7 linked regions of the Homo sapiens genome follow. The protein of the gene in region 6 interacts with the protein of the main gene of each other region in a pairwise test. Each region holds a gene or a part of one and is shown on either strand. Other genes may lie near its edges.

The links.
Region 1: the proteins of MYCBP2 (region 6) and TBR1 interact in a two-hybrid assay, tested with the Homo sapiens proteins (one large-scale study listed by BioGRID and IntAct).
Region 2: the proteins of MYCBP2 (region 6) and CUEDC2 interact in a two-hybrid assay, tested with the Homo sapiens proteins (one large-scale study listed by BioGRID and IntAct).
Region 3: the proteins of MYCBP2 (region 6) and TBC1D9B interact in a two-hybrid assay, tested with the Homo sapiens proteins (one large-scale study listed by BioGRID and IntAct).
Region 4: the proteins of MYCBP2 (region 6) and RGPD8 interact in a two-hybrid assay, tested with the Homo sapiens proteins (one large-scale study listed by BioGRID and IntAct).
Region 5: the proteins of MYCBP2 (region 6) and ARL6IP5 interact in a two-hybrid assay, tested with the Homo sapiens proteins (one large-scale study listed by BioGRID and IntAct).
Region 7: the proteins of MYCBP2 (region 6) and SPARCL1 interact in a two-hybrid assay, tested with the Homo sapiens proteins (one large-scale study listed by BioGRID and IntAct).

The regions. Positions count from the first base shown.
Region 1 is NC_000002.12:161,422,650-161,426,806, forward strand, and holds the end of TBR1 (T-box brain protein 1), read left to right. Parts: intron 1-719; coding exon 720-1,578; 3' UTR 1,579-3,221; downstream 3,222-4,157. UniProt on the Homo sapiens protein: Transcriptional repressor involved in multiple aspects of cortical development, including neuronal migration, laminar and areal identity, and axonal projection.
Region 2 is NC_000010.11:102,429,327-102,433,952, reverse strand, and holds the start of CUEDC2 (CUE domain-containing protein 2), read left to right. Parts: upstream 1-1,378; 5' UTR 1,379-1,427; intron 1,428-4,626.
Region 3 is NC_000005.10:179,872,850-179,877,006, reverse strand, and holds part of TBC1D9B (TBC1 domain family member 9B), read left to right. Parts: intron 1-969; coding exon 970-1,087; intron 1,088-1,819; coding exon 1,820-2,105; intron 2,106-3,758; coding exon 3,759-3,888; intron 3,889-4,016; coding exon 4,017-4,115; intron 4,116-4,157. UniProt on the Homo sapiens protein: May act as a GTPase-activating protein for Rab family protein(s).
Region 4 is NC_000002.12:112,367,340-112,371,385, reverse strand, and holds the end of RGPD8 (RANBP2-like and GRIP domain-containing protein 8), read left to right. Parts: intron 1-1,173; coding exon 1,174-1,208; 3' UTR 1,209-3,017; downstream 3,018-4,046.
Region 5 is NC_000003.12:69,090,958-69,095,114, forward strand, and holds part of ARL6IP5 (PRA1 family protein 3), read left to right. Parts: intron 1-4,157. UniProt on the Homo sapiens protein: Regulates intracellular concentrations of taurine and glutamate. Negatively modulates SLC1A1/EAAC1 glutamate transport activity by decreasing its affinity for glutamate in a PKC activity-dependent manner.
Region 6 is NC_000013.11:77,043,947-77,048,072, reverse strand, and holds the end of MYCBP2 (E3 ubiquitin-protein ligase MYCBP2), read left to right. Parts: intron 1-2,579; coding exon 2,580-2,695; 3' UTR 2,696-3,416; downstream 3,417-4,126. UniProt on the Homo sapiens protein: Atypical E3 ubiquitin-protein ligase which specifically mediates ubiquitination of threonine and serine residues on target proteins, instead of ubiquitinating lysine residues.
Region 7 is NC_000004.12:87,472,647-87,475,574, reverse strand, and holds the end of SPARCL1 (SPARC-like protein 1 isoform 1 precursor), read left to right. Parts: intron 1-1,771; coding exon 1,772-1,800; 3' UTR 1,801-2,240; downstream 2,241-2,928.

The sequences.
Region 1 (4,157 bases), on a different chromosome or scaffold from region 6:
TGACTACTGTTTCAGAGTAGTAATTCTTGTTTGTATTAGTAGAGGTGGGAGTGAAAGTTTCACACAGGGGAAACAATAGACACTAAGTACTTTGGAGGCTTCCAGCAGCAAACCTCGGGTTCCAGAACACGGGTGAAGGCCAGTCTTTCATGATTACTGCGTGCGCGGCTTTTTCCTAGGGGTTTCTGAAACAATCTAGAAAAAGGAGAGATATCACCTGAACAATCAAATGGACACAGGAGGTCTTAAAAGGGTGGAGGAGTGAGTACCTTGCTTAGAAATTTCACTCATAAACTGACCGCAGAGGAAAGGCCCACTGGGCAAAGAGCATCTTACTCCCTAGGTAAATCTGCCTTAATGTGCACACATATGTTGGAGAAGTGGGATGAAAGTCCTTGCTTGTGCCCCTCTCTCAGTACCCCAGTACACTTGACGAGAGAGAGCAAGAGAAGAGGGAAGTCGTTCCCTTGATGGTCTGTATCTTGCTCAGGTCCCTGCATAGACAGATTGGCTCCTCTATAATTCCGTGATTTATTTTGGGAATGATAGAGGTCTGTGGCCTCTTGTATTCTCCAGGAAATCCTGGACTGCAAGTTTGTAGATGGAGGGTGTGGGGGTGGGCGAAAAGTGGAGGTGGCCTTCCCTTCTGCCCCCACCCCCACCCCAAGGGACCTCCGCGCCACCCCTCGGCTCTCTCTCTCTCTCTCCCTACCCCGCAGGATCTACACCGGCTGTGACATGGACCGCCTGACCCCCTCGCCCAACGACTCGCCGCGCTCGCAGATCGTGCCCGGGGCCCGCTACGCCATGGCCGGCTCTTTCCTGCAGGACCAGTTCGTGAGCAACTACGCCAAGGCCCGCTTCCACCCGGGCGCGGGCGCGGGCCCCGGGCCGGGTACGGACCGCAGCGTGCCGCACACCAACGGGCTGCTGTCGCCGCAGCAGGCCGAGGACCCGGGCGCGCCCTCGCCGCAACGCTGGTTTGTGACGCCGGCCAACAACCGGCTGGACTTCGCGGCCTCGGCCTATGACACGGCCACGGACTTCGCGGGCAACGCGGCCACGCTGCTCTCTTACGCGGCGGCGGGCGTGAAGGCGCTGCCGCTGCAGGCTGCAGGCTGCACTGGCCGCCCGCTCGGCTACTACGCCGACCCGTCGGGCTGGGGCGCCCGCAGTCCCCCGCAGTACTGCGGCACCAAGTCGGGCTCGGTGCTGCCCTGCTGGCCCAACAGCGCCGCGGCCGCCGCGCGCATGGCCGGCGCCAATCCCTACCTGGGCGAGGAGGCCGAGGGCCTGGCCGCCGAGCGCTCGCCGCTGCCGCCCGGCGCCGCCGAGGACGCCAAGCCCAAGGACCTGTCCGATTCCAGCTGGATCGAGACGCCCTCCTCGATCAAGTCCATCGACTCCAGCGACTCGGGGATTTACGAGCAGGCCAAGCGGAGGCGGATCTCGCCGGCCGACACGCCCGTGTCCGAGAGTTCGTCCCCGCTCAAGAGCGAGGTGCTGGCCCAGCGGGACTGCGAGAAGAACTGCGCCAAGGACATTAGCGGCTACTATGGCTTCTACTCGCACAGCTAGGCCGCCCCTGCCCGCCCGGCCCCGCCGCGGCCCGGACCCCCAGCCAGCCCCTCACAGCTCTTCCCCAGCTCCGCCTCCCCACACTCCTCCTTGCGCACCCACTCATTTTATTTGACCCTCGATGGCCGTCTGCAGCGAATAAGTGCAGGTCTCCGAGCGTGATTTTAACCTTTTTTGCACAGCAGTCTCTGCAATTAGCTCACCGACCTTCAACTTTGCTGTAAACCTTTTGGTTTTCCTACTTACTCTTCTTCTGTGGAGTTATCCTCCTACAATTCCCCTCCCCCTCGTCTTTCTCTTACCTCCTACTTCTCTTTCTTGTAATGAAACTCTTCACCTTTAGGAGACCTGGGCAGTCCTGTCAGGCAGCAGCGATTCCGACCCGCCAAGTCTCGGCCTCCACATTAACCATAGGATGTTGACTCTAGAACCTGGACCCACCCAGCGCGTCCTTTCTTATCCCCGAGTGGATGGATGGATGGATGGATGGTAGGGATGTTAATAATTTTAGTGGAACAAAGCCTGTGAAATGATTGTACATAGTGTTAATTTATTGTAACGAATGGCTAGTTTTTATTCTCGTCAAGGCACAAAACCAGTTCATGCTTAACCTTTTTTTCCTTTCCTTTCTTTGCTTTTCTTTCTCTCCTCTCATACTTTCTCTTCTCTCTCTTTTAATTTTCTTGTGAGATAATATTCTAAGAGGCTCTAGAAACATGAAATACTCAGTAGTGATGGGTTTCCCACTTCTCCTCAATCCGTTGCATGAAATAATTACTATGTGCCCTAATGCACACAAATAGCTAAGGAGAATCCACCCAAACACCTTTAAAGGATAGGTGTCTGTTCATAGGCAAGTCGATTAAGTGGCATGATGCCTGCAAAGCAAAGTCAACTGGAGTTGTATGTTCCCCCCACCTTCTAAATAGAATAGCTCGACATCAGCAATATTATTTTGCCTTATTTGTTTTTCCCCAAAGTGCCAAATCCATTACTGGTCTGTGCAGGTGCCAAATATGCTGACAAACTGTTTCTGAATATCTTTCAGTACCCCTTCACCTTTATATGCTGTAAATCTTTGTAATGAATACTCTATTAATGATATAGATGACTGAATTGTTGGTAACTATAGTGTAGTCTAGTGAAGATGAATTGTGTGAGTTGTATATTTTACTGCATTTTAGTTTTGAAAATGACTTCCCCACCACCTAGAAACAGCTGAAATTTGACTTCCTTGGGAGAACACTAGCATTAATGCAAGTAAGACTGATTTTCCCCTAAGTCTTGTTATATTTGATAAGGAGCATTAATCCCCCTGGAAATAGATTAGTAGGATTTCTAATGTTGTGTAGCAAACCTATACTTTTTTGTATTTAAAAATTAATGTGAAATATGCATCATACACAATATTCAATCTAGATTCCAGTCCATGGGGGGATTTTTCCTAATAGGAATTCAGGGTCTAAACGTGTGTATATTTTGGCTCTTCTGTAAATCTAATGTTGTGATTTTTATATTTGTTTCGTTTTGTCTGTGAACTGAATAATTTATACAAGAACACACTCCATTGAGAAACGTTTTGTTTTTTGCTCGTTTGTATCGTCTGTGTATAACAAGTAAAATAAACCTGGTAAAAACGCTAACTATGGTGTTTGAAAGCAGTTTACAGTTTGAAAATAATTTAATTATTATAGGTGATGATATTTAAGGGTTAAGGAAGACTAGCCCGTCCCCACTCCAATATGGGCAGCCTGTTTAATGGAAGCCACCTCCCATTCCCCCCTTAAATTTGTTTTATAGTACTTCCAGGAGCTACTTTTTTCTTCTTATTTATAATTATTTAGCTACCTATGAGCCAAGTCTCACTTTTCTGCGCTCATTTTCTTTTTTCAGGAAAACATATGCACTTTTCTCATCATATTTATCTGATTCTCTCTGAAGTTGGAAATAATGCGAACAGGAAAAGGAGGTTCTTTAAATAAGGAGTTAAGAATTTCTTTAAATTTCACAGAGTAAGGCGGGAGGCGTTGGCCAAAAGTAGGGTGTAATTTAAATGCATGTCAAAATAGGATGTTGACCGCAGATTTAGTAAATTCTGGTTGTACATACGAGGCCTTGGAGGTGAGTGGCGAATCTGTAAACGCAGACACAGAACAGCCTACATTTCTTGAGTGGATGGTTTCCGAAGACTGGGCAGGGGTAGGGTGGCGAAAGACACGTAGAACAAACTCGCGAAAGGGTCGTTTTTTAACCACTGAGCTTAAAACTGCTTCTGGGAGGCATCTGGGCTGGGGGTAGGGGCACTGCTCTATCCCTTCTGTAGTGGAATCTTATGCCAGTCCTATCCCTGCCAGATTCACACCTGGGGAACAAATGCAGAAATGCGAAATCCCAACCTGGAGGGCGCTGCGTCTAGTGAAGTCCGCAGAACTCTTTACCTCGTGGAGAAGCGATTTTTGTACTTTTGTCTCCAAAGAGAGGTGATCCAGGCAAGAGGCGGAAAATGGTTCCACATTCTTGCTTAGTCTGGGCCAGCCTCAGGTTACAGGACTAAATTTACCTTTACATAGACATTGTCC
Region 2 (4,626 bases), on a different chromosome or scaffold from region 6:
ATCCCTGCTGATGGGGGATGGGAAATTTTATCCTTGAAGGGGACTCTTCCCCTTGTGACCCATTTCAGGGTTCCCAAGAGGGGAGGGCTGTGGGGCTTCCCCACAGGGCAGCACCGGGAATCTGTGGCAGCAGGAACAAAAAGAGGAAGTTGAAGTCTTGTTGGGCCCTGGAGTTCAGCTCTCCTGTCCTAGACAAGCAGCCCTGCCAACATGGGGGATGAAGGCCCCGGGGGGTAGGCATGGTCTACAGGCTGTCCATGACAGGGCTCAGGTGGATCCTCATCCTGGCACCTGCTACCACTCCACCTCTCCCAGACCACGTCCAAAATCCCAGGCTCCACCCTCCGGAGACACAGACCTGTAGCTCACCCCAATCTAGGGGAGACATTGCTGTTAAGGGAATGCAAAAGGTACAGACAGGGTGGGGAAGTCAGTACCTAAGAGACCAGCCTGGGCCACGTGGCAAAAACCCTGTCTCTACAAAAAAAAAAAAAAAAAAAAAAATTAGCTCGGCGTGGTGGCACGCGCCTGTGGTTCCAGCTACTCCAGAGGCTGAGATGGGAGGATCACTTGAACCCAGGAGGTCGGGGCTGCAGTGAGCCATGTTCGCACTCGTGAACCTGCACTCCAGCCTGGGGCTGTAACAGCAAGAAAAGAAGAAAAAGAAAGAGAAGGAAGGAAGGGAGGGAGGGAAAGAAAGGAAAATAAAGAAAGAAGAAAAGAAAAGAGGCCAGGCGCGGTGGCTCATGCCTGTAATCCCAGCACTTTGGGAGGCCGAGGCAGGCGAATCACGAGGTCAGGAGTTTGAGACCAGCCTGGCCAACATGGTGAAACCCCGTTTCTACTAAAAATACAATAAATTATCTGGGCGTGGTGGCGCGCGCCTGTAATCCCAGCTACTCGGGAGGCTGAGGCAGGAGAATCTCTTGAACCCGGGAGGCGGAGGTTGCAGTGAGCCGAGATCGCGCCACTGCACTCCAGCCCGGGAGACAGTGCGAGGCTCCCTCCCAAAAAAAAAAAAGAAGAAGAAAAGGAAAAAAAAGTGAGAGAGAGAGAGAGAGAGAGACGAGAAAAAGAGAGAGAGAAAGAAAGAGAAAGGTTTCGGGTCTCTGACGGATGAGAAGGAACAAGACGGGGATGCAGTCCTACCCACTTCGACTCCACCCCCTCTCAAGACCTTCACGCCTAACGCCTCCCTACGCGCAACAAAACTGGCCGCCAAGGGAGCCCGTCCATAGCCCTGGGACGTTAGAGAATTAGAGCAGGAGCTCCGCCCTGTTGTGGGCAACTTGCCCTTCTCAAACATGGCCGCCACGGCGCCTCTGGAAGGGAACCGCTCTGGGCCCCGCCTTTGATCTCGTTGGTGGGGCTGGGGGATGAGAGCTGCACCGCGCGGGACAAGTCGCCGGCGGCGCCCGACGGAGCAGGTGATTTCCCCTCCTGCCCCCGGCCCAGGGCTAGGAGAGTCGCGGAGAGCGCTGACCCAGGGTACCCGTCCGATGTGTTCCCCCACGGTACCCCCCCCGGGGCCCGTCGGACCCCCATCTCTGATTCTCGCCGTGGCCTGTATCAAGGCACATCCAGTTTGCTCAGGCCTGCCTCGTCATGTGTCCTCCAAGGCCACAGCCGCATCCCTGTGCCTTCGGGCCCACTATTCTGGACGCTTACGGGTGTCCCGCTAGCGGGTTTAGGGAGCTGCTGCTTCAGGGGTCGTCCATCATCGCGGTCCCACTTCCTGTGCTCGCCCTCCCTGTTTGTGCTCCCGCCTGACTTTGGATGCAGGGATCCCTTGTTCCCCTCAATGCCCTTGGTGCCTCTAAGGTCTGACTTGGGTATCAGAGGACAATGATATCCTCTGGGGCCTGCGTTATGGGTCCAGGGCCTCAGGAACCGGGCTTCACAGGGGCTGGGAGAAGCAGTGAAGACCTTCCATGCTAGACCCCTTGCTGCCTCCCTGAGAAGTTCGCTAGGACTCCTTTCACACTAGCTCCCAGGATTCCTCCTCCCACATGGCCTGCTCTCCCTCCACTTTAAGCACCTCCCCACCCCAAGGGAGCAGCATAGTACTTCTTACCCCACTCTCACTTAAATTTGTCCACAGTGTCTCTATCTAGCATCTGGAGGGTCCAGGCCTGTGCTGCCCTTGGGAAGCTCCCAGGCTAGCTGGGAGCAGTGAAGGTGGGGCAGTTAGGGTTGGCTGCAGAAAGGGAGTCCTGCAGAATGAGATTTGGAGAGGCAGAGGGACAGATGCTCTGGGCTGGGAGAGTGGTGTGAGCAAAGATTCTGAAATAGACAATATAGCCAGCCAGGCAGGAGAGGAGATTCAGAATATAGGATGGGGCCACACAATTTGCATCGTGAGAGGTGATGTAGTGTGGTGGTTAACAGTGAGGGTTCTGGATCCAGACAGCCTGGGTGTAAATCTGCCATTAACTTGCCTTGTGACCTTGGGCAAGTTACTTAACCTCATAGTGCCTTCATTTCCTTTCAGGTAAAATGTGGATAATACGGCCGGGCGCGGTGGTTCATGCCTGTAATCCCAGCACTTTGGGAGACCGAGGCGGGTGGATTGCCTGAGGTCAGGAGTTCGAGACCAGTCTGGCCAACATGGTGAAACCCCGTCTCTACTAAAAAATACAAAATAAATTTGCCAGGCATGGTGGCATGCGACTGTAATCCCAGCTACTCAGGAGGCTGAGGCAGGGGAATTGCTTGAACCAGGGAGGTGGAGGTTGCAGTGAGCTGAGATCGCACCACTGCACTCCAGCCTGGATGGCAGAGCGAGACTCCGTCTCAAAAATACATAAATAAATAAAATAAATAAAATAAAATGGGGAGAATAACAGTATCTACATTTTAGAGTTATTGTAAGGATTAGGTAAGTTAATACATGTAAAAGTGCTTAGGACAATGCCTCGTAAGCAGAGGCAATAAATGCTAATATTACCATCATCGGAGGCATTTAGGCAGGACTCATGACAGGATGACAGTCACATTTGGTAGACACCATCAACCAATGATCTCTAATTTGCGGCCCCCAAGAAGCAATGGGGTTCTGTGGGCTACATCTGGAATTTGAAATGTCTCATGGAAATCATGTTCTTACCCTGGAGAAGGGTGGCTGCTTAGGTGCTACTTAGGAAACCAGTCTGGCAGACCAGATCTTCCCCAACTCAGGGGCTATGCGGGGAGAAGTATTAGGAGCCCCTGAGCAGGAAGGATGTACTTAGGAAGGCTACCGGGGATGGGGAAGGGTAAAAGAGCTTAGAAGCCTGGGTGAAGTTTGGGTAGACCAAAAACAGGAGGAGGGAGGGAGGATGTTCCCTTGGAATACAAACTAGAGAAAAGCTTAGGGGAGCAAGTCTTTTTATTTGGGGACAGTGAAGAGTTTCCTAAAAATTCCCTGGCCCCCAGGCCTTGGCTAAAAACCCAGAAGCATGAGACACATCCCTGAGAAGCTTCTTCCCTAGAAACTGGGCTCTCAGGCCGGGCACGGTGGCTCACGCCTATAATCCCAGCACTTTGGGAGGCCTAGGCGGGCAGATCACCTGAGGTCGGGAGTTCGAGACCAGCCTGACCAACATGGAGAAACCCTGTCTCTACTAAAAATACAAAATTAGCCGAGCATGGTGGCACATGCTTGTAATCCCAGCTACTCAGGAGGGCTGAGGCAGGAGAATCGCTTGAACCCAGGAGGTGGAGGTTGCGGTGAGCCAAGATCGCGCCATTGCACTCTAGCCTGGGCAACAAGAGTGAAACTCTGTCTCAAAAGTAAAATAAATAAATAAATAAATAAATAAATAAAATTAAAAAAAAAAAAAGAAAACCTGGGCTTTCAGCCAAGTTTCAGTCACCACCACACAGGTGGCTCATGCCTGTAATCCCAGCACTTTGGGAGGCCAAGGTGGGCAGATCACCTGAGGTCAGGAGTTCGAGACCAGCCTGGCCAACATGGTGAAACCCCGTCTCTACCAAAAATACAAAAAATTAGCTGGGCGTTGTGGCAGGCGCCTGTAATCCCAGCTACTCAGGAGGCTGAGGCAGGAGAATTGCTTGACCCTGTCAGGTTCACACCATTGCACTCCAGCCTGGGCAACAAGAGCGAAACTCCGTCTCAAAAAAAAAAAAAAAGAAAGAAACTGGGCTTTCATGCAGCAGCCATGGGCCTTTGTCCCGGCAGAGGCTACCATGCAACTGACAGCCCAGGATTCGAGGGTGATGTAACCCAGGGTCGAGGTAGGTCCCTGGAGGCGGTTCTACCCTGAGGGAGCTGCATGATGGGATCTAGTATGCCTGGGCTGAGCCATTCTGCTCTTCCTCAGGGCCCATGAGGGCTCTGGCGCAGGTGGTATGAATTCCCCTGGTAGGCTGGGGCTTCTCAGTCCTGCTTTCCAAAGTGACCCCTGTGCTATGAGCAACTCTGTTACCACTCGGGACCAGGCAACTGTAAGCATAGAAGGTAGCCCTGTCCCAACCCACTTGAAAGTCTTGATATCCTCCCTTCCCCAGAGTAGCCCCTAGAATAGATGCTGAACTAGGTGACCTGGATTTAAATCTGACTACCGCAGTCAAGCCAGGTGACTCTGGGCAAGTCATTAAACACACTGAACTTCATTTCTTCATAGG
Region 3 (4,157 bases), on a different chromosome or scaffold from region 6:
CTCCACCTACTGGGCTCAATCGATCCTCCCACTTCAGCCTCCTGGGTAGCTGGAACTACAGGTACACACCACCACGCCCAGTTACTTTTTGTATTTTTTATAGAGATGGGGTCTCACTGTGTGGCCCAGGCTGGTCTTGAACTCCTGGGCTCAAGTGATCCGACCTCCTCAGCCTCCTAAAGTGCTAGGATTACAAAGTGTGAGCTACTGTGGCCTGGCCTATTTTTAATTTTTTGAGGAACTCCATACTTCCTCCCCAGCAGCTGCACCATTTTATATTCCCACCAGCAGTTCACAAGGGTTCCGATTTCTCCACATCCTCATCAACACTTGCTATATTCTGTTGTTGTTAGAGTGATGGGCATGAGGGTATCTAATTGTACTTTAGGTTAGCATTTCTCGCAGCTTTTGATTTTAAATCTAGGCATTTTCCTGGCCAAGTCATATGGCTTTCTGTTTGCCTTAAAGGTCTTGTTAGCAGCTAGGGCTGTGTGTGGTCCTAGTTGTGCACCGAGTGGGTGGCCTTGGTGTGGGGCTCTGGCCTTGTGGCTCACCTCCACATCAGCTTGGTCATAATCCCACCTCCAACACCCAACACCACTCCGCAGAAGTGTGATGTGTTGATGTTCACCTTCTCTGGTTTCCCAGTGCCTTCTGACCCAGTTTGAAGGAGTTGGCAGACTCTCTGTTCCATCAGTTTCCTACAAATTGCCTTTTGACATTTCCCAGAGTTGGGTAGGGGCAGTTTCTCATTACCGGATGCCCAGCCCTCCTGAAGAGGCAGATTTGCTTGTAGGAGGAGGCCATTAATCTTCACCACGAGAACCTGAAAAATAATAAAAATAACAACAACAAAAAGAAGATCATGTGGGCCCTTGCAGGGAGGGGTGGCTGGGAGGGGTGGGGAGAGACAGTTTTATTTGCTGGCCAGCAGTGCAAGCCTTCCCCGGCTGTCTCTGTGCCCGGCAGGCAATGAACATCGTGACCTCGGTGCTCCTGCTCTATGGCAGTGAGGAGGAGGCCTTCTGGCTCCTGGTGGCCCTGTGCGAGCGCATGCTGCCCGACTACTACAACACCAGGGTGGTGGGTGAGTGTCCCCGGGTGCTGCCTCGCCTGGGTCTCCAGGTGCCTGCTGGTTCCATGAGGGTGGCAGCCCTTCCCAGGCCAAGCTCCAGGCTTCACGTGGGTTCCCTAGGAGTTAGAGGGTAGTATTACACATTCGGTGGTTTATAAAAGTCCCCTCAGAGCCTAAATTCCTATCCATCTAACTTCCTGTCAACTTTTTGATTATGGAAAATTTCAAACATCAAAACTAGAGAGTATATATCCCCCATGTAACCTGATGCTCAACTTTACTGAACTCATATCCAGTGAAATCTGTTATGAAGTGGAAATGGACTTGCAAGAGTGTTTAATTAGGTTCATATTTAAGCATGTTATCCTGTCCTTCCCCTGCTGTCTGGTGTTTGGAGTTACCGCTCTTGGGGTCCTTCAGAGCTGCGTCTATTCACAATCATCAGGATGGGACAGAGTCATTGAGGGTGCTGTTTACCTCTCATGCCTTACGGAGAAATCAGTATTTCCCCAAAATAAAATTCAAGTGTAGTAGAAGAAATAGTTATTTCGCCCAGTGGTTTGGGAGCTGTAGAGAGACTTGAAGGGTTTTTTCGTCCTTGTTTTCTCCCAGCACTCCAAGTCTCCCTCAGCCCTCACTGCACAGCTGGCAGGGCTGGAGTGGCCAGGGCTCGTACGCTGCAGGTGAGGGCCCACCCAGGCCACAGGGTGGGCTCACCATCAGCCTCGCTCATCCTGCCCGCAGGAGCCCTGGTGGACCAAGGCATCTTCGAAGAGCTCACGAGAGACTTCCTGCCGCAGCTCTCGGAGAAGATGCAGGACCTGGGGGTGATCTCCAGCATCTCGCTGTCCTGGTTCCTGACCCTCTTCCTCAGCGTCATGCCCTTCGAGAGCGCCGTGGTCATCGTCGACTGCTTTTTCTATGAGGGCATCAAGGTGATCCTGCAGGTGGCCCTGGCCGTCCTGGACGCCAACATGGAGCAGCTGCTGGGCTGCAGCGACGAGGGCGAGGCCATGACCATGCTGGGCAGGTGACATGCCGGGTTCCTTCTCCTGCTGGGGGCTCACAGCAGAACCCCTCACCAGCCCCGGGCACTGTCCAGTCAGCCTGAAGTGACTGTGCCCACCAAGTGCCAGGCTGCAGCTGGACCCGGGGGTGCTCTGGGGTCAGGAGGCGGCTCCTTTCTAGTGGGAGATGAAGCAGCGCTCAGTGATAGGTGCCAGGAGGAGTAAAGCAGGCACTGCGGGCAGAGCATGCTGGCTGGAGGGCCACCGCTCAGATGTAGGGTTGGAGATGCTTCCCCTGAGGGCAAACCAGAGCCAAGATCCAGTGACCACAATTCCAGTTGGTGGCACAGCTGGGCATTTCATGTCCACCAGGTGGTCCCGGTCATACCTCTCCAAGCTCAGCTGCATTGCAGCCCCCATGCCCTGGAGGGAGCAGGCCTGCCCTGGGCCCGCTGGAACAGCTGGATGAGCTGATGTCCCACTAGTCACGCCAAATGTCCAGGGTCATCCCAGCCCCTCCACCCCCTCCTTAGTCCCCACATCCCATCTCTTGCAGATTCTGTCTGGGATCCAGCCCCTTCCCTTCAGCCTGCTGCCTCAGCCCAGGCCCACCATGCCCTTTCCCTGGGGTTCCCCTCTCAGTCTTTGACCTGCCTGCATCCCATGACTCTGATCAGACCTGGCCCTGCCCCTTCCCTGGGTCCTCTGTACAAAGGCACTGTCTGAGCCTCCAGCCTGGCCTTCAAGCCCCGGCCCCTCCTGGCTACACTCTGCCCTGCCCTGAGCTCTGTGCAGTCCCACCCTCCTACATAGCGTATTTGTCCGGACTGGAATGCCCCCAGCCCCCAGGAACAGCCTGGGACTCTGCCACTTGCCCATGGCCAGGCCAGGTGCTGCCTGGGACTCTCTAGATCCAGCAGGGTTGTCACCTCCCTACTGTGGGCCTAAGTAGCTTTTGGTCCACACTGATGTTAAGATACTCAGCCTGTGGCCGGAGTCTGTGGCTGGTTTTCCTGCCGCTTCCTACAATAGGCGGATAGGGCCTCCTCCAGAGCAGGGGTCTGACTGGGGATATGACCAGGGCTATGGGCATGGGGAGTCAGCTACCTCCTCCCACCTGAGTGTCAGGCTCAGCCCAGGGACCCAGAGAGGCCATGAACTCTGGCGGGGCTAGGTCAGCTGACAGAGGTAGGGCTCCATCCCCAGGACTGTGTCCCTAGAGAAGCTGATTCCCTGGGCTGCAGCAGGCCTCCCCACACCTGACTTTCTCCTGCGACTCAACCTTTGATCCCTGAATCTTCTTGGCCAGGGCGAGAAGGTCCCACATCCCCAGGGCCCCGCCAAAGGGAGGAAGCTCGTCATCCTTCCAACTGGGTAGGATCTGGGGTTATAAGGCGTTCCTGCCCAAGGGACCCCCCCACTGACTAAGAAAACAGCCCAGCGTCCTCAGGGTTAGTGCTCAGGCCTTGTCGGGGGCACTGCCCTGTAGAGGGCTCCCCAACTTGCTGGGGGCGCTGCCAGGGCACACCTCTGCCCTCCTGCAGGGTGCCCAGTCCTCTGCACACTCCTTATTAGGAGTCTGCATAAAGATTGGGTCCCTCCGCATCACCCAGCTGTGGGAAGGAGGCTCCCTCTGCCTGGGCGTGGTCTGGACTGTTGTCCTCTGTCCTTTGCAGATACCTGGATAATGTGGTCAACAAGCAGAGTGTCTCTCCTCCTATCCCGCACCTCCGTGCCTTGCTGAGCAGCAGCGATGACCCCCCTGCAGAGGTGGACATCTTTGAGCTCCTGAAAGTGTCCTATGAGGTCAGCACCCAGTGGGGCCATTTTGGCCAGGCCGCTCCATCTGGCATGTGGGTTGGGGTGGCTATGGGCAGGTGGTGGCCCTCTGCCCTGCAGTTGGCTTGATCTCACCAAGTCACCTCTCCCTATAGAAATTCAGCAGCCTGAGGGCCGAAGACATTGAGCAGATGCGGTTTAAACAGAGGCTGAAAGTGATCCAGTCCTTGGAGGACACGGCCAAGAGGAGTGTGGTATGGGTGCCAGCAGGGCTGGGCAGGGGCTGGGCTGGGGGG
Region 4 (4,046 bases), on a different chromosome or scaffold from region 6:
ACACTGAAAAAAGCAGAACTATAAGGACAGAAAACAGGTTAGCGGTTGCCAAGGAGTGGGAGAAGCAGCCAGGGAGAACTTTGAGGAGATGAAAATGTGCCAGGCCTTGGTCGGTGGTGGTACGTAACTGTGCATTTGTCAAGACTCAGTGCTATATGCTGAAAAGGGCAGGTTTTACTATAAGTAAGTTGTACCTCAATAAACATGATTTTTAAATGATTAAAACTTTGGTTTTTGTTTGTTGTGGTTCAGTTTTAAGGTTTCCCATAAATCTATTGGTTTTAGATTCTAAGTTGTATATAAGCTTCTGTTTTAAAAGAATTTTTTTTAAAATCCTCTTATCGTCAACAATATTTAGTTGTGCTGGAAATTTTATTTTGGAATTGTTTAATAGAGAAAGACAATAAATAATGTTCAAGAACAGACATTGATTCATAACATCAAAGTATATTGTGAGAAGATGGTATTTCAGAATAGAGGAAGAATTTCTTATGTGCTGGTAAGATTGTTTGTAGATAATCATTTCTGCATAATTTTCATAGCTGGATTGCTTTAATAAAGCCATTTAAAGGTTAAGTTCTAGATTGCTTCATGTTGCTTATCAATGTTTTAAAGCTAAAATAGAAAATTAGCTGTTAAGTTGGCTCAACCGGAAATTCAGTATATCCTTTAAAAAGAGAAATTTAGTAAGCAGTGTGTCTAAAGAATGACATATGGTTGGGTACAGTGGCTCGTGACTGCAATCCCAACACTGTGAGGCTGAAGTGGGAGGATCACTTGAGCCCAGGAATTTGAGACCAGCCTGGAAAACAGTGAGACCTGCATCTCTACAAAAAAACAAAAAATTACCCAGGCATGGTGGTACACACCTTGTGGTCCCAGTTGCTTGGGAGGCTGAGGTGGGAGAATCACTTGAGCCTGGGAGATCAAGGCTGCATTGAAGTCTCATCACGCCACTGCACTCGAGCCTGGGTGACAGAGCAAGACCCTATCTCAAAAAAAAAAAAAAAAAAAAAAAAAAAAGAACCCCCCCCCCCACCAAAAAAGGCATGTGATCAGTAAAAAAGACATTATTTGCTTATATTGTAGAGTGGTTCTAAAATATAGATTTTACATTGAGAAATTTTAATACTCTCTTTTTTCTTTTTTTTTTCTTTGTTTTACTTTCTAAAGATGAGGAAGAAAATCCTTCCCGTTCTTCTGGATGAGCATCCTATCTTCGTAGTTGGTTTGGACTTCGATAGGTTGATGGAAGGAATACTTCTATTAACCAAATAGAATCTGTTTACAAAAATGGTTCGTGTGTGTTACCATTATTCTTTTGTCAAAAAGTGTGTATATGTGTTTGCATTTACATATATTTGTACATCTGTATGACAGATGTATTTTAAAAGTTTCAACTTGAAGTAAAAGTACAACAGCTTGAAGTGTTGATACCAGGCCACAGCCCTCTAACTCATGTGATCTCCCATGCATGCTGCCAGAATAAAACCACCAGGAATGAATTCACTCCCCACTTCTCTGGAACCTCAGGACCCGCCCATTTCTCGGCAGTACTGTGAATTTTGAAGTTAAACTAAATTTTGGTACCATACCAACTGGAATTTAGGCTTTAAAAATAATGTTTCAAGGCCAGGTGTGGTGATTCATGCCTGAAATCCCACTACTTTGGGAGGCTGAGGCTGGAGAATCGCTTGAGGCTAGTGAGCTGTGATTGTACCACTGCACTCCAGCTCGGGGAACAGAGCGAGACCTTGTCTCTAAAAATAATAATAGTAATAAAAATAACGTTTTATGACTATTTATTGCAAGGTCAGATTTACAGATTGTTATAAATTGTTGAGAAATTTTTGTGATTAGAATATGAAGGAAAAAGCTTTGTTGGTAAAAGTGACATGTTAAGGGGCTATGAAGTAAATATGCTGCAGTTAATTGTGCTAAGTTAAAATACAGTTTAGTTATTTGCTTTAAAATAAACTCTTCTTTTTTTCTTTAAAGTATACTACCTCAAAACTCATTATGTTGTCAGAGCCCTAGAGCTGGCTAGTGTAACACTGACTATGAGTAGGTGGGCCCACCACTTGAGTTGAGGTGATTTCATGGTGTCTTTCCAGGCTCTTGATAGGGTGTCACTGCATGCAAGCCATGAATCTGTTTTGAGAATCCTCTCCATTTTCCCAAATAAAAACCTATCCCAACAGTGACTATATCACTCAGCATTGGATCTAAATATAAAAGTGGTGCTTTCAGTGTTTTTGGCAGATAGTGTTCCATAACCTTTCCATCAGAAGGGATTTTAGACACCTTAGAGGTCCGTGCTACATCTTCACAGTTCCTCCGAATAACCTTAGGTGGTAGTGTTACTTGCCTTTGACACCTGTGCATATGTTTTAATGACTAGATCCAAACTGTGTTGTTCTTAAATCAAAAATTGGATAATTTTTAATATTTATGTATTAATCACACAGTGTGCTCTCTGAAGTTCTCTTAAGCCTTCAGTTTATACTCTTAATTTTCTTTCTGAGCTGGGGAACTGACTTTGCACTTTGGTTACACAGAACATTGGTTTCCAATTTAGTTTAACTGAAATTTGCTGCTGATATGTTGAGTTTGTTCTTTAAAAAATATCTCATATATCTCGTCTTTCCTCCTTAGAAGAACAGACCTAACTAGCGAATGTATGAATGAAAATGCATCTATTTCAGAGCCGACATGAAGAGTTTAGTTTTTTTACTTTATAAACTGTGAATATGAGTATGCCAGCTGCATTAGATGTAACTAATCATATTTAAATATATTTCACTTTGACTTTAGACCTTTTGAAGTCTGTATAAACTTGTTTTGAAATACAGTCTCCACTTACGAATGTCATAACAAAATACTTTTTTGCATGATAAAAAATTACTTTGATTACAAAAGGCATATTCTTTCATGGTTTCTGCAATGAGAGGAAGTGTAATGATTATTTTAATATTTCTATTAAAACTGTATATTTTTATGGCTGCTCTTTTATGTTACCCACTGTCTCTTTGGGGTTGTTAATTGGTTTCTGAAAGGGAACTTCAAACTCCTTTACTACTGGCCTTCCATGGTTGGTCCCTATTAGGTTGTTGTGAGAACGTCGACCAACTCTTTGATACCCGCCAGGTAGACCGTAGTACCTGCCATGTCTGACACCCTGCATCCAGCTAAAACCAGAAACAGCGCTGGGCCTCCCTGTGGACAAGACATTGATTTGACCAGAAGCAGATGTCTGGCTAAGGCTGCCAACCAAAGGGTGGCCTTAGATGAAGGGCTTTGTTCAGTTAGGGGCAGAGGTCATTAATTTTTTTTTTTTTTTTTGAGACAGAGTCTTGCTCTGTCGCCCAGGCGTGAGTGCAATGGCGCGATCTCGGCTCACTGCAAGCTCTGCCTCCCAGGTTCACGCCATTCTCCTGCCTCAGCCTCCTAAGTAGCTGGGACTACAGGCGCCGGCCACCATGCCCGGCTAATTTTTTGTATTTTTACTAGAGACAGGGTTTCACCGTGTTAGCCTGGATGGTCTCGATCTCCTGGAGGTAATTTATTTCTTTGGATGTTTGGACTAGGAGATGGGGAGAGGCAGAGCAGAAAGAGAAACACAGATGCCACAAGGAGGAGGAACAGAGCTAACCCTGGATAGGACTGGACACAGCAGCCAGACCAAGAGAGGCATCTAGTGAGAAGCAGCTCTTCAGCCCTGGGCCTGGTGCACACATCACTCCTTGGTTTCTAAGAACCAAATTTGGCCCAGCACAGTGGCTCATGCCTGTAATCCCAGCACCTTGGGAGGCCAAAGCGGGTAGATCATGAGGTCAAGAGATCAAGACCATCCTGGCCAACATGGTGAAACCCCGTCTCTACTAAAAACACACAAAAAATCAGCTGGGCATGGTGGTGTGCACCTGTAGTCCTAGCTACTTGGGAAGCTGAGGCAGGAGAATCACTTGAACCCAGGTGGCAGAGTCCAGTGAGCTGAGATCACACTACTGCACTCCAGCCTGGCGACAGAGTGAGACTCTGTCAAA
Region 5 (4,157 bases), on a different chromosome or scaffold from region 6:
AGGCCGAGGCGGGTAGATCACCTAAGCTCAGGAGTTTAAGACCAGCCCGGGCAACATGGCGAAACCCCATCTCTACCAAAAATAGAAAAAATTAGCCTGGCGTGGTGGCATGCATCTGTGGTCCCAGCTACTTGGGAGGCTGAGGTGGGAGGATCTTTTGAGCGTGGGAGGCGGAGGTTGCAATGAGCCAAGAACGCACGCCACTGCACTACAGCCTGGGTAACAGAGTGAGACGCCGTGTAAAAAATAAATAAGTAAATATAAATCTTTAATAAGGATTGCTTTTCATTAAATAACCTCTGACAGTGTATGTGTGTATATGTGTGTGTATATACATACATATATATATATTTTGAGACAGGGTTTCACTCTATTGCCCAGGCTGGAGTATGGTGGCGCAGTCATGGCTCACTACAGCCTCTACCTCCCTGGGCTCAGGTGATCCTCCTGCCTCAGCATCTTAAGTAGCTGGGACTATAGGCATGTGCCACCAGCCTGGCTAATTGTTGTATTTTTTTTTGTAGAGAAGGGTTTTTGCCATGTTGCCCAGGCTGGTTTCGAACTCCTGGGCTCAAGCAATCCTCCTGCCTTGGTCTCCGAAAGTGCTGGGATGACAGGCGAGAGGTATGGCTGGCACACCTTTGATACTATTTATGTAACTTTGTTTATCTGAACTTCTCTCCCCTCTCCGTCCAGCTTTTTTTTTTTTTTTTTTTTCAATGTTGCCTGCTACTTTTGGCCTTTGGTTGGTAGTTTCTGTTTCCTTTCCCTAGGTAAGGATTTACAATGATTCTAGGTAAGTGTGCAAATAAATGAGTGTATTTTGGATTCCTGGCCCCCTGTCTTAGAAAGGAGAAGCTCTCCATCAGCTTAGGGACAGAGAGCTCTGTACAGGAAATCCAGTTCAAAAAGGTCAAGACCCATTCTTGACCTACCCACTTAATATCTAATTAAGCATCAATATTGGAAATTTTGTATTTTTTATTTTTTGGACAAATGAATTCTATCCTTATCACTCAGCTTCAGAAAACTTAACCCTTAATACCATCCTCTGTCTCTTGAAATGAGCGTGGCTTCCTGTTTCTGAGAATGCCTTCACCCTTAATACCATCCTCTGTCTCTTGAAATGAGCGTGGCTTCCTGTTTCTGAGAATGCCTTCAAGCCCTGTAATTTTAGGCAAAACCTTCAGGCTAACAACTTCAGGTTTGCAAGCATTCATCATTGATATATGATAGGATTTCCTGGCCTTCCTTCTCGTTATGCAATTTGCTAAAGGAGACACCTGGAAGGCAGAAAGCCCTGCTTCTTCTAATCTGCTTCATATCTCATTGGTGCAGCTTCTCCTTGTCTCAGAGGAAAAAGAATGCAGAAATTGGGGGTTAGTGAGGGGTAAATAGACAGGAAACTTGTGAGAAGGAAGTCTGTGTTACCAAGCTCGTTAGCATTTGTCCAGCCCCTGTCTTCTCTCCACAGCTCTGTAAGAATTTGCCATGTGACAGTTCTCAGTAGCTTTTGTTTGTTTTGTTTTGTTAAGACAGAGTCTCTCTGCATCGCCCAAGCTGGATGCCATGGCAGGATCTTGGCTCACTACAACCTCTGCCTCCCAGGTTCAAGCGATTCTCCTGCCTTAGCCTCCAAGTAGCTGGGATTACAGGCACGCACAACTATGCCTGGCTAATTTTTGTATTTTTAAGTGATTACAGGCACACACAATTATGCCTGGCTAATTTTTGTATTTTTAAGTAGAGACGGGGTTTCACCATGTTGGCCAGGCTGGTGTCGAACTCCTAGCCTCAAGTTATCCCCCCACCTCAGCCTCCCAAAGTGCTGGGATTACAGGTGTGAGCCACTGTACCCAGCCTTTTTTTTTTTTTTTTAATTTTCTAAAATCATTCAAGAAGAACAGTTTGTAAACAAATATCTTTCCACTTCTGTTCCCCAAAAAGTATTGGTTGTTAAGAGTAACCATGGGTTGCTAATTGTGAAAGCAGTGATGAGCATACATGAAGATTCATTATACATTATTCTCTCTACCTATGTATATGTTAGTTTTCCATAATGAAAAGTTAAAAAGGGTTTTATGAAGTCTAATCAGAGCTTTGTACACAACTATTATTTGAAGCTCCGTCACTGTGGGAAGCGTCAGATTTATGGTTTCTAATCCGAGTCCAACCTGTTGTTTATTAAAAACAAAAGAAAATCTGGAGGTTCCTAAGGCATGTCTTAGTATGAACACTTTTAACATGCCAACTGTTAAAAAGACAATGGTTGGTTTGGATGCGAGTGTTTAATTTGTGCCAAATTACACAGGATACAGTAAATATTTAGGGAATGGCAAGAATACAATAAATCCTCTAGGCCTTCCTAATTCAGTTGGTTAGGAAAATCTCACTATGACCTTTCTGTAACAAAAGAGACAGGCTCCTGTTCAGTTTTACCTACTGTACAGTCTCCTTTATTCCATGATCCTTAGGCCAAGGAGACACTGTTCTCATTTACTCAAGACGAATTTGTGTCCAAAGCCCACATTTATGCCTATAGTCAAAAATAGCTCTCCACTTTGGGAGGCTGAGGCAGGCAGATCACTTGAGGTCAGGAGTTCGAGACCAGCCTGGCCAACATGGTGAAACATCGTCTCTACTAAAAATGTAAAAATTAGCTGGGTGTGGTGGCGCATGCTTTAATCCCAGCTACTGGAGAGGCTGAGGCAGGAGAATTGTTTGAACCAGGGAGTCAGAGGTTGCAGCGAGCCAAGATTGTGTCACTGCACTTCAGCCTGCCGACAGAGGGAGATTCTGTCTCAAAAAAAAAAAAAAAAGAAAAGAAAAGAAAAAAATTAAAAATTAGCCAGGCAAGCTGGCACTCACCTGTAGTCTGTAGTTTCAGCTACTCAGAAGGCTGAGGAAGGTCACTTGAGTGTGGGAGAAAGAGGCTGCAGTGAGCTATGACCATGCCATCATACTCCAGCTTGAGTGACAGAGGAAGAACCTTTCTTGAGGAAAGAAAAGAAAAGGCATATGGAGCTGTGCTCTGGTCAGAGAGACTGAGGAAAGGCTGGCTGAGCTGAGACTTGAAGGAGGGTGGAGTGAGGCCTGTGTGCAAAGTATCCTCTCTGCCTGATTCACCTCACCCTGAGATGGCAAAAGGCAAGGTGAGTTCTGGGGTAGATAGAAACCCTGAGTGGATGGGGGTGCAATCAGGAGATGGTGTGACAAACCTGGCAGGTAGGCCAGCTGCTAGCCCTGAGAGTTCCCTCATGCTAATTACTAAGGCACTTCTTCCTCTCCTAGCAGTTACAGCCAAAGCCAAATTTTGGCCTTGGCTTGTGGAGTGTGTGACCTGGATTCCAGGCCCCACTTACCCCCTCAGCCAGGCACCAACTCCACACCTATATACAGTGGCCCTGGCTGCAGAGGCAGGCAGGGGCCAGACCCTGCGAAGCCTTGTAGAATGTTTAAAGAATTCTGTTTTTAGTTTAAGAACAATGAAAAGAAAATGGTTGGGTGGGTTCATATTTGCAGTGATCCCTCTGGCTGATTAAGGACCACAGAGAAACATCGCCAATTTAGAGAAGTCCACCGTGAGTATATTGTTCCCCACTTTTTCGGTGAGTCAGCCTTCCTCAGAAACCACACTTCAAAAATAGCTTTTTCGGCTAGAAAATTGGAACTCAGTGCAAAGCTGCCTGTACTCCTCAGGAAATATTTTGCTGCCTCTTTGGTGGTTCTTTTTGGCCTTGCAGCCTGACAGGAGTCACCAAATGTGGCCTTGAGTTGATCCGAGGATTTCTGTTATGGCAAACTTTTATTGCCAACTTTGCAATTGGTGGCCTTGGACAAATTTATTAACTTGTATATTCTTTAGCTTGCTTACGTGTAAAATGAGGTGGGTTAGCAAGATCCTTCCTAGCTCTAAAATTTTGTGAGATTTTTTTTTCCCCTTTCAGTAACTTGTGGTAAAACTATAGACATAGCTACTGAATCACGTTGGGAAGTTTAGGACCTGTATCCACACCCACTAATAGCCACCTTGTTTCAGAGAGAAATGAGAGTGCAGAGGGATTTTCCAGGATGATCCTTGGTTATAGTAGGTTACTTAGAGTGTGGGGGAAATCCTTAAAGCCGGTTAACATGACAGAATGGGTTCTACTGTGAGT
Region 6 (4,126 bases):
TAACAGTCTCTCATTGTCTGAGATAATGCCAGGAGTTCTTTGTCCTACCTCCAAGAAGATTAAGGAGCACAGATACAAAGGTGAGGTTAGAGCGAAAGTTTAATAAGCAAAAGAAGAAAGCTCTCTGCCAGCAGAGAGGGGGGCCCAAACAGGATGCTCCCGTGAGGCTGGGGCCCAGGGTTTTTATGGACTGGAAAGGGGAAGGAATGTGCTTAGTCTGTGGGCTGTCTTGGCCCGCAGCGTGACTCAGCTTGGCCCGGGACCCTGGCCCAGGAACCCACTGGAGCCCACTGTGCCTATGCCCACAAAAGGAGAGAGCCCCCTGACTATACAAAGGACAAAGGCATTTCTATCCCAGGTCTTGTCCTTTATCTGATTGAAGGTTTTTCTGTCTGTGCAGCCGTGGGCATGTCTTTAGGCACAATGCCCTGTGCTAGTTCCCTCATCGGTGCCTGCAGCTTGACTTTTTTTCCCCAACTGCTTTTTATGTTATATGGGGATGAGGCACTGACCTGTGGACCTGGGGCTCTCTGGGGACCCTTCCCTTGCTATCTACCTAAGGCAAACTAACTCCTTTCATTAACACGTCAGTATATAAATTTGGAGGAGCACAAAAACATCCAGACCATAGCATAATCCCTCTATCCATTTCTTTCTAAAATATTTATTGACTACCTTCTCGTGCCAGGATACTTAATCTTCACAGCACCCCATGAGTTAGGTATTGCTGTGTCTATTTTAAAGATGAGGTATCTAAGAATCAGAAAAAATAATTTTACTTCAGTTTCATATCTACAAAATGAGGATAATCGTTTCTGCCTCCTATGACTGTTAAATGGTTAAGTAGCTGATATACTAGAACAGTGCCTCAGTAGTAAGCACTCAGATGTTTGCAGGTGTGTTTTCACTATTTTTATTTCTCACCACCATGTTGGATTGTGAACACCTTGAAGATGGGAGCCATGCACTTTTCATCTTTAATCCCAAGTACCTAAGAATGCCCTTCATATATTAGGCATGCGGTAAATATTTGTTGAGTAAATGACTCATTTTTTCCTTGAAAAAACCCAAGGGCTGCAGTTTGTGTCACCACCATTGATATGTTGTGTATCTGAACTAGATCTGCCATTGAGTGTCCCCATCCTGCGCACTCTCCCCCACCCACTGGTGGGGTGGGCACCAATCTGCAGTGTGATTTGGAGCAGGAGCTACTGAACTACTTTCTAACAGGAATAATTAACTTTCTAGCAAACCTCTGGCATCCTCCCATGCTGACCCATCCTGAGGTCTGTGCCTGCATTTGTCTGAGGTGGCACTCATTGCCACTCTCATGCCTGTTAGCTCTAACCTGAAGTTGACTTCTCTGAGATTAGCTGTCTTCAGTTTGACACTCTAATGTCTTGGTCTTACTCTTGTACAGAACTTACTTTTTATTCCTCTAGATCAGGCCTCAGTTTGTGGTTGTTCAGTAATAGTAGTAATAGCCAACATTTATTGGGTATTATACTGTGCAGTCTAAGAGCTTTATAAATGCTAGCCTTTTATCCATCATGGTTTCCTTCTCTTATGTCAGAAATGTTTTTAAACCTAGAAAAGGTAAAGTAAATGAGACGTCATTCCTCATTGATCAGTGTAAGCTCATTCCATCCAATCTCGTGATATTTTTCTCTCAAGCACAATCAGAATTTAGATTTATTATTTTGAAAACTAGCTGTAGAAAACTAATGCAGAGTTCCTATTCCTTCATCTACTATTAAATAGGGACTCTGCTTTCAAGTATAAGCCTAGCGTGTTTTTCTGACAAAGTAAGCCTCCTGGTTTCTAAAGGAACTAAAAATCTTTTCTAAATGATATGAAACCCATGACGTGAAGCACATTAATATAATAATTTTCTTTTTTAAAATACTGTTTTTGGTACATTTGATAGGCCTACTTTGATTATTATCAACAAATTCATATCTTCCCCAAAGTGTTTTTTCCACATTGTATTTTATAACATTGTTCATGTTTTTAACCTGATAACTTTCATTTTCCTGCTAATATCCTTCAGGTACTTTTAAAAATTACAGGAATCATTGGCCTTCCCATTTTACCAGTGTGGGCTTTTTCATCAGTAAAAATAAAAGGGAAAACATGGCTTCTTTAAACTTAAATGTTTTTACTTATAGAAAAACATTCTACACAAAAATCTCCCTGTTTTCTATTCAGAAAAATAATGTTCTGCCAGACTAAATTGAGGGGTTTTGTGACCTTTTTTGTTCATTACTCTGTTTTAAAATGATATATCTGATGCATTTATTAATAGAAAAAGATCTGTAGCTCGAAGTGATCCTCTCTAGGCAGGATATAGTGAGTAAGGGACCCCATCACTTCTTCCATTGTACATATCTGTGTTGAATTTTTTATAGTGAACATTTTTTACTTTTGTGATCAGAAGAAAAATTTCTAAATGTTATATTTGTATAACCATAGTCATGTTATTTCTTTGAATAACCTATCAGTGATTTATATTTCTGTGAGGTTTATATGTGTGTATTCTTAAAACATTATTTTCCTTTGCCTCCTTCAAATTTATACAGGTCCCAAAGGCAAGCAGTTAGAAGGAACTGAATGTCCACTCCATGTTGTTCATCCACCCACTGGGGAAGAGTTTGCTCTGGGATGTGGAGTGTGCAGAAATGCCCACACTTTTTAGAACACGCAGATCCTTTGTCTACAGAGAGAAAAATTGCCTTCATCCCCCAAGAGGATGCGGTGAAGTTTAAACTCTGCTCAGGATAAGGACGGGACCATTTTTACATCCATGAAAATGAACCATTCACAGTGCAAGAAGGATACCAAATACCATGTACATAATTCTTGCTATGAAAAGTTTCCCCATTATTTTGGTTTATCTTCTTTTGAACAAATGACATCAAACTTGTGAGGTGTTTGCATGTGGCCATTACCGTCATTGGCCTGTGAAGCATTGGACATTTATAGATAATTGATATAAAAGAATCGCCATGCCCATGGACTAAGAACGATGCTGGCTTTCAAGCAAAAAAGAAAAATAATCATTGTTTATTGTATACTGCCTTTTTGTAATCCTGTACAATTGCATCACGGGTGGGGATAAAAAGAGGAATATTCTGGTTTATTTCCTAGACTGTTATTTAAAAAAAAAAAAAACATTGTGTTAGGACAGCATATAAATGTAATAAGTATCACACTGTATATAAACATATCAATGTTTGTCCTGTATAAGAATTACTAAATTACAAATGCAATTTCATTTAAACTTCTAGGTTAAGTTTGAGCCTGAAATTTTAATGAAGTGCAATACTGAGTGTGCCTCATTATCTTGCAGCTGTAAACATATTGGAATGTACATGTCAATAAAACCACTGTACATTTTTATACAGTGATAAAGTCTACCACTGTGGGAGGTATTGTTTAAAAAACAAAATTTGAACACCTTTAAGGTCTAAAAGTCCAGTTTTCCTCAGAAAGAAATTTACTAACACAACACATTCATAATTTTCAAAACTGTTAGAGAAAATAAGAATAGTAATGAAGTGCAATGTTGGAATCTTAAACCCTAAGCAGAAGATCATAAATATATATATATATATTCGTAGGTAAATATATTCATACCAAAGACAGAAGAAAGCATTTAGGAAATTAACTTCTATTTTAACTAGCAGCATTTTTAACTTTATTTATTTATTTATGAGACAGGGTCTTACACTGTCACCCAGGCTGGAGTACAGCGGCGTGATCTCAGCTCACTGCAGCCTCCAACTGGGCTCAAGCGATCCTCCAGCCTCAGCCCCCTGAGTAGTTGGGACTACAGGCATGCACCAGCACCATGCCCAGCTAATTTTGTAATTTTTGTAGAGATGGGGTTTTGCCATGTTGCCGAGGCTGGTCTCAAACTCCTAGACTCAAGCAATCCCCACTGCTTTGGCCTCCCAAAGTGCTAGGATTACAGGCGTGAGCCATTGCACCCAGCCCCTTTTTGAAGTTCATATAAAGTAATAAAATCACTAATTTTTTATTCATTTTCTATAGACAACGGTGTGTTTAGGTACATCTTTTTGACACTCGAGTCATGAAATTGCCAAATTATTGATTGTTGACTCAT
Region 7 (2,928 bases), on a different chromosome or scaffold from region 6:
TTGAGGATTATAAGCATACAGAGAATAATTGACACCAGGGAAGGGAATTAATTCTCCCAAGGAAAACGCATTGAGTTACATGAAAAGGGGTCTAGGATTGAACACTGCACTGAGAAACAACAACATCTAGATGATGGATAGGGGAGGAAGAAAGAATTCAGTAAGGAGAATGAAGTTTCTCCTGAAATGAAGGAAGAAAACCAGGATAGTGCCATGCAAAGGAGGTGTTTCAAAGAGGAGGAAGAGATTAACAGTGCCAAATGCGACTGAGATGTCAAAGAAGTTGAAAGAAATAAGGATATCCTGGGTAGCCTTGGTTAGAGTAGTTCTGGTGGAATGGTAGACATGGAAGTCACATTCTATGGGTTGAGAAGAAAAGGGAGATTAGAAAGGGTAAGGAGTGGATGTTTGAGTGCAGGAAAGACCTAGAAAAGCTACAGAGCATTTTCTAAAAAAGGGGAGCATTTTTTAGAATAAAAGAGATTTGAGCACTCCTTTCATTTACTCATTCATTTGCTCAAGAAATCTTTACAGGCCAGGCGCGGTGGCTCACGCCTGTAATCCCAGCACTTTGGGAGGCTGAGGCAGGCGGATCACGAGTTCAAGAGATCGAGACCATCTTGGCTAACACGGTGAAACCCCGTCTCTACTAAAAATACAAAAAATTAGCCGGGCGTGGTGGCGGGCGCCTGTAGTCCCAGCCACTCGGGAGGCTGAGGCAGGAGAATGGCGTGAACCCGGGAGGCGGAGCTTGCAGTGAGCCGAGACTGCGCCACTTCAGTCTGGCCTGGGTGAAAGAGCGAGACTCCGTCTCAAAAAAAAAAAAAAAAAGAGAGAGAGAGAAATCTTTACAGATGGTCTACATAAATGCAGGCACTGTTCTAGAGGCTAAATATGAAACATATTTAAATGCTAATGGAAGGGTCTAGTAAAAAAGGAAAGGTGGAAGAAGGATGTAAGAAAAAAAGAGGAAAGTAAAAGGAGAATCTTGTGAAGGTCAGAAGAGATCTTGAGCATAGGTAGAGGAATTAGCCTTAACGTCAAGAAAAAGGACAATCTCTTATCTGAGCAACAGAAAGAAGACAAAGGCTATGGGTGCAAATATAAGTAAACGTATAACTAATGAAGCTATTATCTCCATTTTACATATGAAGCCAGTACTCAAAAAAAAAAAATCAAAGTCCATAATCTTTCCCATTCTCTGGGCTAGATAAAGATTATTAGCAGGAAAATTACCTAGTGCCCACACAGAGTAGTATAATAGTTTGTTAGGGTGGGCCATGTTGGTAAGGAGTGATCTTATATTTGCTAGAGGATGCTGTCTTCTTCCACAGGTATGGCGACAATTTCTTTCACAAGCTACTCAATTAAAAACTGGAATAACCTAGCACTACACTTCTATTTATTTCCATTATTTTTCAGCTCACCTTCTAGATTAGTATACTGGGCACTTCTTGGCTGGACCTCCCGTTAACCTGCTCTTCCTCTATCAGTGGTTCTCAACCCTGCAGCCAAATTACCTGCAGAGTTTTCTAAACGTCTACATGCCATTAGTCCACCCCTAGGGATTCTGATTCTAGAGTCCAGAGGTGAGGCCTAAAAATACATATTTGTAAAAGTTCATGAGTGATGTTGCTGTCCTACCAAAGTTGAGGATCACCATTATACTGCCTTATTAGATGGTTTCTCTAATCCCCCAACTCTAATATTGTTTGTGCTACTACTCTGGCTACTTTCTAAAAGTGTCATTTTGCTTCTTGTTTTTTTATAGAGGACATAGATGAAAATCTCTTGTTTTGAACGAAGATTTTAAAGAACTCAACTTTCCAGCATCCTCCTCTGTTCTAACCACTTCAGAAATATATGCAGCTGTGATACTTGTAGATTTATATTTAGCAAAATGTTAGCATGTATGACAAGACAATGAGAGTAATTGCTTGACAACAACCTATGCACCAGGTATTTAACATTAACTTTGGAAACAAAAATGTACAATTAAGTAAAGTCAACATATGCAAAATACTGTACATTGTGAACAGAAGTTTAATTCATAGTAATTTCACTCTCTGCATTGACTTATGAGATAATTAATGATTAAACTATTAATGATAAAAATAATGCATTTGTATTGTTCATAATATCATGTGCACTTCAAGAAAATGGAATGCTACTCTTTTGTGGTTTACGTGTATTATTTTCAATATCTTAATACCCTAATAAAGAGTCCATAAAAATCCAAATGCTTATGCAAGTGTATTTCCAGTTATTATTTAGACAATCAAATGTAAAAGATCAACCCAAGACTCACACTTCATGTCAAATTATAATTGTGCTTCCTAAACCCTACTACCTTAAGTGTGTGTGTGTGTGTGTGGTTGAGAAAAAAGTGTGAGACATCTCTTACAGGAAACAAATACTCAGTGGCAAGATAAGAGGTGCTCATTAATGTCCTTCATCATTATGTAAGTTTAAACAGAAAAAAACTAATATCAAGTGCTTTTTTACCAAATTTGATATAAAATGTAGAACAAGCTGGGTGCAGAGGCTCACACCTGTAATCTCAACACTTTGGGAAGCCAAGTCGGGAGGATTCCTTGAGCTCAAGATTTCAAGACCAGCCTAGGCAACATGGAGAGACCCTGTCTCTATGAAAACTTAAAAAAATAGCCAGGGGTGGTGGCATGTACCTGTGATCCCAGCTACTTGGTGGACTTAGGTAGGAGAATTACTCGAGCCCAGCAGGTCGAGGCTGCAGTGAGCTATTGTGCCACTGCACTCCAGCCTGGGTGACAGGGCAAGGCCCTGTCTCAAAAAATAAATAAATGAAAATAAAATGTGAAAGATTATGCACTGCTTGATCCAATTAATTCTAACTTTTTGTGCAGTTGAGCATGTGTGCTGGGGAAGAGGGCGGCCCTGCAAAAATTT